Linked DNA regions of Homo sapiens: region 1 is linked to region 2. A link means that fine-mapping ties the variant in region 2 to the expression of a gene that starts in the linked region. Tissue or cell type: NK cells. Region 2 holds a variant in brackets; the other region holds the start of a gene. All regions are shown on one strand. Distances are between the middles of the regions. Region 1 holds the start of SLC2A9 (solute carrier family 2 member 9). Region 2 overlaps WDR1 (WD repeat domain 1).

The links. PIP is the estimated chance that this variant, and not a neighbour inherited with it, causes the effect.
Region 1: SLC2A9 starts here. The variant in region 2 is fine-mapped to the expression of SLC2A9 in NK cells (Schmiedel 2018, PIP 0.95).

Annotation. Positions count from the first base shown.
Region 1 is chr4:10,019,246-10,024,614 of GRCh38, reverse strand. SLC2A9 (solute carrier family 2 member 9) reads left to right here and starts at 3,118. Exons shown (of 12, transcript NM_020041.3): 1 at 3,118-3,335. The coding sequence starts at 3,186. RefSeq lists an enhancer at 3,137-3,636.
Region 2 is chr4:10,079,338-10,084,706 of GRCh38, reverse strand. WDR1 (WD repeat domain 1) reads left to right here. Exons shown (of 15, transcript NM_017491.5): 9 at 177-264; 10 at 1,529-1,685; 11 at 3,263-3,350. Among named protein-coding and RNA genes, the nearest start is that of MIR3138, 3.3 kb to the right of the region's middle. The variant CA/A (reference allele first, on the strand shown) is at 3,043.

The DNA.
Region 1 (5,369 bases), 60 kb after region 2:
TAGACTGGGCAGCTTAAACAACAGAAATGTATTGTCTCACAGTCTTAGAAACCAGAAGTCCAAGCTCAGAGTGTCAGCAGGTTAGTTCCTTCTGAAGCCTCCCTTCTTGGCAGAAGTGGCTGCCTTCTCCCTGCGTCCTCACGTGGTCATCCCTCTGTGTGTGTCTGTGTCCTCATTTCCTCTTCCTATAAGGACACCAGGCATACTGGAATACAGCCCCATGCATATGACTTCATTTAACCTTAATTACCTCTTCAAAAACCCTATCTCCAAATACAGTCACATTGTCAGGTACTTGGGGTGAGGACTTCAACATGTGAATCTGAGGGGACACAATCAGCCCATTGAGACGCACACCATCCCTGCCCACAGTGAGCTCCCGTGCAGAGGGGAAGGCACACGTGAGCAGCAGCACACGTGCAGAGGGGAAGGCACACATGGAGCACAGAGGCAGCGAGAGGTTGGGGAGGCTGCTGGGAGGAGGTGGCGAGAGAGTTAAGTGCTGAAGGGTGAGCACAGTTCAGGGCAGTCAGAAGTGAGGGCCTGAGCAAGGTCAGGAGAACCTGAATGAGTAGGAGCTTCATAAAGACAGGCAAGTAATGACTGAATGAAGGAACCAGTGAGTGTCAGAGCAGGCAGAACGTGCCCCAGCCCAGAACATCTGGGGATGTTTGTCTTATGACTTCATCTGTGATAGGAGTCGCTTCCTTAGCAGTTGCCTGCAGTGCAGGGCCGATGGCCCTGTGGAATGGGGAACCAGCCCTCGCTTTGGAGGCAGGCTCCTCCATGCTCCCCCTGAACTTCAGTTGCCCCGAAATGTAGGTCTGATAGTTCCTCTGAGGACTAAACGATATCATGAAGGTGAACACACTTGGGAAAGCCCTGTGCACATGTAACATGAGCTGTGCACATGTAGTAGGAGCTGAAGGTGAGGCAAGTGCTGTGGCTACCAGGAACCCTGGTTAGCTACCATCTGGATCCGGGAGGGACCCATCTCCGCTCTTTTACTTTCTGTCCAGCTGTAGCTGCACATTCATGTCCACTGCCTAATTTCTGGTTCCTTTTGAGTTTTCAAACCCAACAGAGGACTACGAAGCAATTTTTAACGGGATGAGGGGACACCTGATCCAATTTGAGCTTTAGCAAAATCTGGTGAGGTCCCCACTGTTACAGATGAGGAAACAGGGAGGGTATAGAGAGGGGAGTCACAGCAATGGGATGAGGAGGGGTAAATGAGATGATGAAAATGCAGTCCCTATCAGGACAGCATAGGGGCAGAGGGGCCCTCCATGCACAGGGATGCAGCTGTCCCTGCCCCTCCTCTGCCCATCTCCTGTACTTCAGGCCCCAACCATGCTTCACTGACAATTTCACTTCCTCCCACACACTGCAGGCATCTGTGCCTGCAGGCCTTGGCTCCTTGTCCTCTCACCCCGTATCCTTCTCTGTCCGCTCAGAAGCCGCCTCTTCCAGCGGGGTCTCCAAGATCCAGCTGAGATTGATGTGGTGCCTCCTCCACACTGTCCTGGGGAATCCTCCGCCTTTTTAGGTCATGTTATAATTAAGGATTTGCACATCAGAATGCTGCTCTAGGCCCACCACTCAATGAGGAAACCAGGCTGCATAGCTGAAATCCAGTTCAAGAAACAGCCACTTCTCCCGGGGCATGCCTGACTGATTAACACACAGAAGGACGATTGCACTGAATGACTGGCGTGCTCAATACATCCCCAACCTAACTCCTGAGGGTGGTTTTCCTCTTTGGAAGTCTTGATTCCCCACTTGCTTTGAGCAGCCACATTCCCACCACCGTGCATGTCAGGGCCGGACGTTTCCACGTGCGTTTCACATTCCAGGTTCCTGGAATGTCTGCCGTACTCCACACCTTTTATTTTATTGTGTGCTTTTTACTAAACGTACTTTGCTAACTTTTCGATCTCTCTTTTGTGGACTGAGCCCTACCTTGCCTCCTGGACGTTCTGCATTCACCAAGCCTGTCCCTGGCTCTGGCCCAGACTCTGCACTGCTCTCTGCTTCTGGGAGCAAACTGTTCTAGCCAAAATTGAAGGTGCTTCTCTGGCGTCTGAGGCAACATGGCCATGTGATGAACTGATTCCCACAACCTCCTGGTGTGCATGAGGCCCTTGCCTTCTCAGTACTGTCCTTGAGCCAGCCTGGGGCTGGAATACAGGACATGTCCCCTCAGCCAGTGCTGAATGAGCAGGACAGAGTAACGACTAAGAGGCAAATTCTTTTTCTTCCAAACCCACAGCCCTCGCCTTTGTTCTAGGCTACAGGAGAGCCCACACTCATTTACAGCACGCCACTTGGGGCTGGCTGTTTTCTATTTGAGCTTCAGAATAAGTCTGCAGGACAGTCAGAGTGGGGTCAATATTCCATTTTGCAGTGGTAGAAGTTGCAGCTCAGAGAATAAAGTGACTTGCCTGAGGACACACAGTTAAAAAGTGGAGGAGTTGGCCAGACATGGTGGCTTACGCCTCTAATTCCAGCACTTTGGGAGGCTGAGGTGGGCAGATCACCTGAGGTAAGGAGGTCAAGACCAGCCTGGCCAACATGGTGAAACACAGTCTCTACTAAAAATACAAAAATCAGCCAGGCGTGGTGGCACACGCCTATAGTTCCAGCTACTTGGGAGGCTGAGGCAGGAGAATTGCTTGAACCCAGGTGCGGAGGTTGCAGTGAGCAGAGATTGCATCAGTGCACTCCAGCCCGGGCAACAGAGCAAGATTCGGTCAAAAAAAAAAAAAAAAAGTGGAAGAGTCAGGGGCAGAGCTGTATGCAGGCTTCTGAGTCAAAGTCAGCCACCTCTCCATTCTGTTCCAAGCATTAGGGAGGTATCCTAGGTTAATGGCAGTCACCCTGCTCCAGGCTTTGTTACCAGAGAAAAATAAAAAGATGCTAAGAAAAAAAAAAAAAATTCCACCCCCTGGGTGGCAATCCTGGAGAGGACAGATTTCCCTTTTTGGACTGTTTCATTGCTGTAATAACTTAGGAGCAGAGAAAAAAATGTTGCCCCGTTGCCTGTTCAGGCATGATCAAATTGCCACACTTCCTGTCAGGAACTCCCGCCCTCCTTCCAGTGGACTCTGCCTCCTCACTCACGGAAATGCCTTGGCAGAGTCTGGGGTCCCTGGACTGAGCCATCAGCTGGGTCACTGAGACCCATGGCAAGGAAACAAAATAGGAATTCCAAGGAACTGGGCCTAGTTCCCCTCACAGATGACACCAGCCACGCCGGGCCTCCAGGGCCAGGGAGGGCACTGCTGGAGTGTGACCACCTGAGGAGTGGGGTGCCAGGTGGAAGGAGAAGAAAGGTAACTACGGACAGCTTTTCTGCATGGCTGGCGGGCTGTGGGGAAGGCAGGCCTGGGTGGCAGCCGTGTGACAGTGCTCAGCCCCAGCCTGGCAGCGTGTAGCTGGGGGATCTGGGGCTTTGAGGCAGGGAGGCCTCAGTTTGAGTTGCACTTCTCCATCTGTGTGACTTTGGCATGCTCTCTCCAAGCCCCAGCTGACTGGGCCAACAGCGTCTCTGGTAGACTGGGTGTGTACATGGAATGAGGCTATGGTGGCAGGCTGCCCTGCCCCGCACTTGCATGGTGGTGTCCCTCTTCTCACCCTCCCCAGGGCATGGCACGGGCAGCAGCACCGTCGGTCAGTGGGCACCCTCTGCCCGTGCAGTGAGTGGGGAGCGGGTGGAGGGCACAGGCGGGCCACACAGGCAGGGGGCTCCGGGGAGCACAGCTGAGGCAGGAGAAGATGGCCCCCACCTGCCCTTCACCAGCCTCTGGCAGGGGCACTTCACACCAGGTGCTCCCAATCTGATGGGGTGCAGACCAGGGAGGAGTTTGTGTCCTCTAAGGTCATCGGGGCTGGGAGCAAAGAAGGCACAGAGCACAGAAACGATGCCCAGCACAGCCCAGGGGCTCAGAAGAAGTGGTATCTGTGCCGAGACTCAGAGGATAGGTTTAAAGAGAAAGAGTGATAGAGAACAGGCGTTTCATCTGAAATGTGATTCTGTTCCATCAGGGATCCCCATTCAGCTCAAGCTCCTCTCACTGCAGAAAAATATTCTGGTACTACATTTCAATTGGCAGCACCCATCCCCAAGGCTTATAAATGTTCCCTCTTGCCCCCGCATGTGATCAGCAGCCTCTACGGAGCACCTCCTCTGCAGCAGGCTCCTCAACAACATATGTGGCCAGTGCTGCTATTAAGATCCCATTTCACAGGTGGGCAAGCTGAGCCCCAGAAAAGTCAAGTCACTTGCTCAGACTCCTACAGCTGAGGGGACTGGCCCTGGAGGTAAAGCTGATATCACTTGGCTCAAAGCCCCAAAGCTCTATCTCGTGGCTGGTGGCACTAGAGGAGACAAACGAGACTGGCAGAGCAGGTAAGTGGCCATCAAGAGACCCGCATTCCCTTCCAGACGGGATTTGACTGATATGGGTCCCTGAACCATGGATCCATATGTCTTCTTCACTGTTGCACCCCCACAGCTTTGTCAGGGCCTGGCGCCTACAACACACACACACACACACACACACACACACACACTCACAAATATGTCAAATGATGGCAAAGAAGGTGCCTTCCGGAGCACCTGGCCCCTGTCCACTTGGCCTGTATTCCCTGACCAGCTGAGGACAGCCATCCCTCCTGCCCTGGCTCATGCCAGCTTGTCAGCCTTTGCCAGGGATCCAGGTGTTTCTGCCCTATGGCCCTGTACTGGTGGTGGCTGTCCTTAGATGGGGCTGCAGGGCAGGACAACACCAAGGCAGGCGCCCTGTTCTCTGTGCCAAACCTTGCATCTCTACGTCTGCAGGTCCTTGTCCTGAGGCTTGGACCAGCCCCTGTAGTTTGACGCCTCAGACTGGAACAGTATGTGCATGTAAGCGTGTGTGCACATCTGTCTGGCTGTCGGCAGTCTCAGGCCCTTGGACAACGGCACTCAGGTGACGGGTCAGCAGGGGACAGTGCAGTGGTGACTAGAGGGGCACTGCAGCCAGGCCACCTGGACTTCAGTCCCCATCCTAGACAGCACCAGCCACGCTCCCTGCCCCTCTTTCCTCACCTGTAATACAGGACATAACAGCACTGATCTAAGGACTCAGAGACAATGCGCAGAAAAGTGCTTAGAATCACGCCTGGCTGATAGCGCTTGGAGTCTGGCTTTGCTTTTTTCTGTCTGGGTCGGACACTCGCCAACTTCGCTGAAAGGATCGTGTGGAGCTGCCCAGAGCAGCTGCTGAAAACTGCGTTTCAGGAATCCTCACGCAACCCGGAAGGAACGCAAGGGCGTGGCCGCTAAACCTGAGGGCGCCCGGCCTGCGCACGCGGACCTGGACTGG
Region 2 (5,369 bases):
TCGTGGGCCGTGCATTCGGGCAGCTGGGGCTACTGGGGCCTCAGAGCACCTGCACTGCCATGGATTGAGGGGCGTCTGCCCCCTCCATTACCCAGAAGCTTCGTTGGTGGAAAGCGGGTGGCAGAGGGCAGGGCAGTGTGTCATCAGCTTACCCGCCCAGTGTGTCTCCTTCACAGGGTCACAGTAAATCGATCCAGTGTCTGACGGTGCATAAAAACGGCGGCAAGTCCTACATTTACTCTGGGAGCCACGACGGACACATTAATATCCTTTGACTCAAAGAGCTGGCTCCGGAGCCGCTGGCTCTAGGGGGGAATTTCCTGTTCCCATGATGCCAGAGGCCAGGCCAGCCAGGTGGCTCCAGCTGCAGCCACAGCCACACGCTCTTCTGACCCGTGTGGCTTCTAGGGGTGGCCTGTCTGTACATGGGGACAGGCAACTGTCCCCTGGAGTTGTCCTTGGCAACTCCAGGGCTTATGCTGAGGAAAAGCCATGGGCGGCTCCGACCTGATCAGTCCCTTCTTGTCGTGCAACCCTGAGAGTGTGGCTTAACGGCCCTGAGCTTGGGCTGCCACTACCTCTGCCAATGGCACCTGGCGCCAGCCTTGGCCCTACTCCACATGGTGGGTTTCTTGATTCCTAGAATTCACAAGCACCTGGACACCCTTACGTTGGGTCCCCTTGTTTTAAAAATAGGAAAACCAGAGCCCAGAGAGCTGATGTGCCCGCCCCAGAGTCATGCAGCCTGTGGTCCACAGAGCCAGGGCTGGAGCTCCTGCGAGGTGCCTTGTGGCCCTTCGGTGATGTTCCCTGGAGGTGTTTGTGTCCCCCTTATAAGTCCTTGTCTGGGTTTCTTTAAATGAGTCCTGGTTTCTCCCTGATGATGGGGGCTTCTGTTGTGTTTTTCCTGCATGGCCTGGGGCTGGTGACACCCTGCTCACGGGTGTGTCTTGAACCTTGGAGCCACCATCTGCAGAGTGCCTGGGCAGGGATGCCCACACACGTTGCTGATGATGGCACCTGCTGTGCGTTGTTCTGCTGCCCTCCCTGAGCACCGTGCTGTGTTGGAGACTGCCTTTTGTGTGGACAGCTCTGGTCCGCATGTGCTGTACCTCCCAAAGGGACTGTCCGGGACCCAAGGAGGTCCCCCCAGGCTGGGAGAGGAGGGCAGACATGCCACCCTCTGCCCCCAAAACATAAAGAAATGTGGGGTTAGAGGGTTGCGCCTACCCGATAACTAGTAGCAGAGGAGACGCCGGAGCCTCCCCAGCTTGCTGGTCCCCAGTAGGCCTTCAGCACGGCTCCCTTTCTGCCTCATCCCAATCCCTGTGTGGTGCACCCACACTTCAGATACCCCTTCCTAAGAACGTGTCAACAGTGGACACTGCAGGCTTCCCAGGGGGAATGGTTATGTCCGTTTGCGGCGAGATTCTCATTCTTGATGTAAATGGAGAATCTTAGGACTGAAGCCACACCTGAGAACACCCAGCAGTCCTGGGAGCCGGGCTTTTCCTTAACCCCACCCTACATTACTGGGATTCAGAGACGGGGGAGAACGACTCCTTCGCTGGGAAAGGCCACACGAACCAGGTGTCCAGGATGACCGTGGATGAGTCGGGGCAGCTCATCAGCTGCAGCATGGACGACACCGTGCGGTACACCAGCCTCATGCTGCGGGACTACAGGTGAGAGCACTCGGGTCTGCGGGGGTTCCGGATGAGCCTCAGCTCCCCTCGGAGGGCTTGTGCCCTCCAGCAGTTACTGTTCTGGAGGACGCCTCACTTGCTCCTTTCATCTCTCCCACCCCGTCCCCAGCATTGTTCTCCTGTTGTTGGGCCCTGAGCCCAGCACTGTGTTACAGATCCAGGTGGTCTGGGTAATGCTCTTGCCCACAGACAACGACCAGGTGTGGACTCTGCCCTGGAAGCAGGGGCAGCAGATCACAGCCCTGTTCTCCAGGAACCTGCTGCGGTCTCTCCCTGTGTCCCTTTCCTCATCAGTAAAGGCGGGTACAGTGGAGCCTGCCTCAGGCTGTTGTGGATTAGGTGAGCCTGGCACAGGGCAGGTGCTGAGTACAAGACAGCATTCCCCTTCTGCTCAAGGGTGAGATGGGCACACAGTGATCTGGTTAAAAGACAATGTCTTGTTTGTTTTTGGTCTTGGGCCTTTGATTGGCAGTCAGTGGAGCTAGGAGAGTAGCAGTTTGCAAGTGATCTGAAGTCCTAAATGCAGTTGGAGGGACTTGAAAGAGAAATGTTCCAGGACCTGACGAGGCCACTGCACATCCAGTGTCCCCATGCCCAGGTCTGACCCCTCCTCTGGCCCTACATTTCTTGTGTAGACCCCTTTGTCACCCGGTAGTCCTGCCTAAGTCGTGTTGCCTGGGAGATGGGGACTCCTGGGGCCTGTTGATGGGAGCCTGGCACAGGGTGCAGCACGCAACTCCTAGCAGGTGTGCCGTCCTTGTAGGTAACACAGGCCCTGCCTGCCTGGCAGACTGGGCATCTGTAGGTAAATTGGGCCTCCCGATGAGTGGCAGAAGCGGCCCCAGAGCCCAGGCATCTGGGCCCTGGTCCTCTTTCTACTGCCCTGTGGTGACCCCACTCTTAACACGTCCCATAAAAGGGTCTTCCCTGGGCCAGATAACCCAAGGCAAGGCCCTTACAGAGCCAGCCTTGGCCTGGTGACCTTGCTGCAGAGCCTTTGGGGATGCCACACTTGGCCGAGTGACACAGAAATTTCCTTGATTATCTCAGTTTTCAAGAAGTTTGTGTGTATGAGTCTTTCTAGAACAAGTTTTGATAGCATTGGCCAAGGCTAAAAATAACATGATTTTCACCCATTAAAGGTAACGGATTCTTAAAAGTTACCCATCCATTTTGGGGAGCAGAGCTCAATTCTGTCTGTGCTCAGTAAACTCCAGTCTTTAGCCAACAGACAGGGGGACAAAAGCCACATCTGGGTGTAATGAGGGCTTACCACAGATAAATAGGAGCATAATCAACGCCTTTCACCGCCTCCCGCCCCTCCTTCCCCCCCCCC[CA/A]CCCCTCCCCGGGCCCCCATTATGACTTATAATCTCTTTGCACCAGAGTCATGGATCGTTTTTTCGCTACCATCCCATATTTTAGCAAGTCTCTCCAGTATAGGTGGCAATAGAATTGCCTTCTAAGGAGCAAAACTGTGGTTTAACAGTAAATATGTATGCATACCTACCCTGAGCTGCTGCATTGTCGAAGTAATGTGCTTCCTTTCTCTCTAACAGCGGACAAGGAGTTGTGAAACTGGACGTTCAGCCAAAGTGCGTAGCCGTCGGCCCCGGGGGATACGCCGTGGTCGTGTGCATTGGACAGGTAGGGACCTGGCTTAGTGTTTGGGTGGGAGCCTGCAGCTGTGTGGTGCCTGCTTGCTGAATTTGACTCATGTCCCGTTTGACAGTTGCTCTAGCCAGTGTTTTGGTTGAGTGCTCATTTGCACTGCACTAAGGGATCTCACATATTTAATCCTCACCACCATCACATCAGTTGTACAGATGAAGAAATGGAGGCACGGAATGGATAAATTGGTTGTCCAAGGCCGCAGCTGGTCGGAGGGCAGAGCTGGGATTTGTCTCTAAGCCTCAGACCACGCTGCCTGCCTGTCAGCCTGTAAAGTCTATGAGATACCCTGTGGGGTGGGCCTGCCTTTGCTCCTGTTCACATCCCAGCCCTGCTGCATTGTAGCTGTGTGACCTCCGGCATTTACCTCACCCTCTCTGAGCCTTAGTTTCCCATCCCCAGCACTCACAGATCCAGGTGATTATGAGGAAGTACATGTAAGTCTCCTTACACCATCTTGGTTCCTCTTACAGATGAGGAGGCTGAGGCCTAGAGCAGCTTGGTACTTTCCCACATGCAGAAGGGTGGCACCTGACTTCCCGGCCTGGCTTCTAACCCCAGACAGTGGGGCCACCTGCACACCTTTGGAATATCTGGACCAAAGCCACCTGAGACCCAAGCCTGACCCACTTTATACAGAATTCTGCCCTGCAGAAGATATTATCTGTTGGCGGGCCTAGGCTTGCTGGCATGTAGACCGGGGAAGTCAAGGGGCACCTGTTGGCACGAGTGGCGAGCCCTGCTAAAGAAAGCTGCTTTCAGCACCCTCTGGCCCTCCTTTGCCTTGTGAACTTAATTGCGTTAGGGACAGTGGATTTCTCTGTGTCCTAGATAATAAGAAATCCCTGCCAAGTAATTATTGCAAACAGCCTGGACAGCCAGTGGGGGTGGGGAGGTGCAAAGGGAATCCACACATGGAGCGCCTCGGGGCCTGGGGGAAACGCTACAAAGCGGAGTTCTAGAAGGCTGGCAGGTGGCCTATCTCTGCACAGCAGGGCTCTTCCCAGCCAAGGGGTCTGCACATGGGGCTTTGTGGGTGAGGGGATGAGGCCTAGGGCAGCGTGCCCTGTGTCTCCAGACCCAGGTTTCCTCATCTGTAAAGTTGTGGTCATCATAGGCCACCCTTTCCCCTGAGGCTGAGAGGATGTTCAGACTGGCCCAGCTGGCGCCTGCTGCCCAGGAGGTTAGAAAGGACCCCGGTAGGGTTGTGGTGTGCAGGGGACAGGCTCCAGGTCTCTGCACCTCCTCATGTGGCATTTCTCTGTGATCTGCTGTTACCTGATCCTCCCAGGGCATCTGGAACCCCTGCTCTGGGTCAGAATTTTCTGCAGAGCTCCCTGTCACCAGTCAAAGAGTTAGGAGGGTGCTAGGAGGGGCCTGGGATTTTAGATCAGGAAACAACCAGGTTCAAGTCTCATGTCGGACGAAGCTTCAGGCAAATGCTTAGGCCCTCATTCTTCACCTGTGAGTAGGTAAGGCCACCTCCAGAGCCGGGCAGATGACAGAGGTGCCTCTTCAGTAGTAGGTTTTAGTCAGGGTGCTGCTACCATTCATCGCGATCCACCCACAATCCACGCAGAAACAGAAGCCCAGACGGTAGGGGCAGAGGCTGCCTTCCCTCATGACAGCTGGTGGCTTGGGTAGGGGCACACTGGGATAAAGGCAAAACTCAGAGATGAAGGCCACTGTCTGGGAGCAGTTGAGTAAGTTAGAACCGGAAGAATTGACAAGGAAGGGAGATGGAAGGAAGGCCCCCGCTGCAGAGCCTCTGCTGCATGTACCAGAGGCAAAGGCCCAGTGCGGGTGCCGAGGCTTGGATTCTGGGCGAGTCCCGGCTCAGCCTGTGGGAACTGGAGCCTTGGGCGTGCAGCATAAGCACCGTACCCCATTTTCTTCTCTGAAACGGGGAACCCGATCCCTGCCTTGTGGGGCTGGAACACTCACAGCAGAGCGCTGGCACGTGCCTAGGGGCTGTCGCTGTTTTTGTTTACTGTT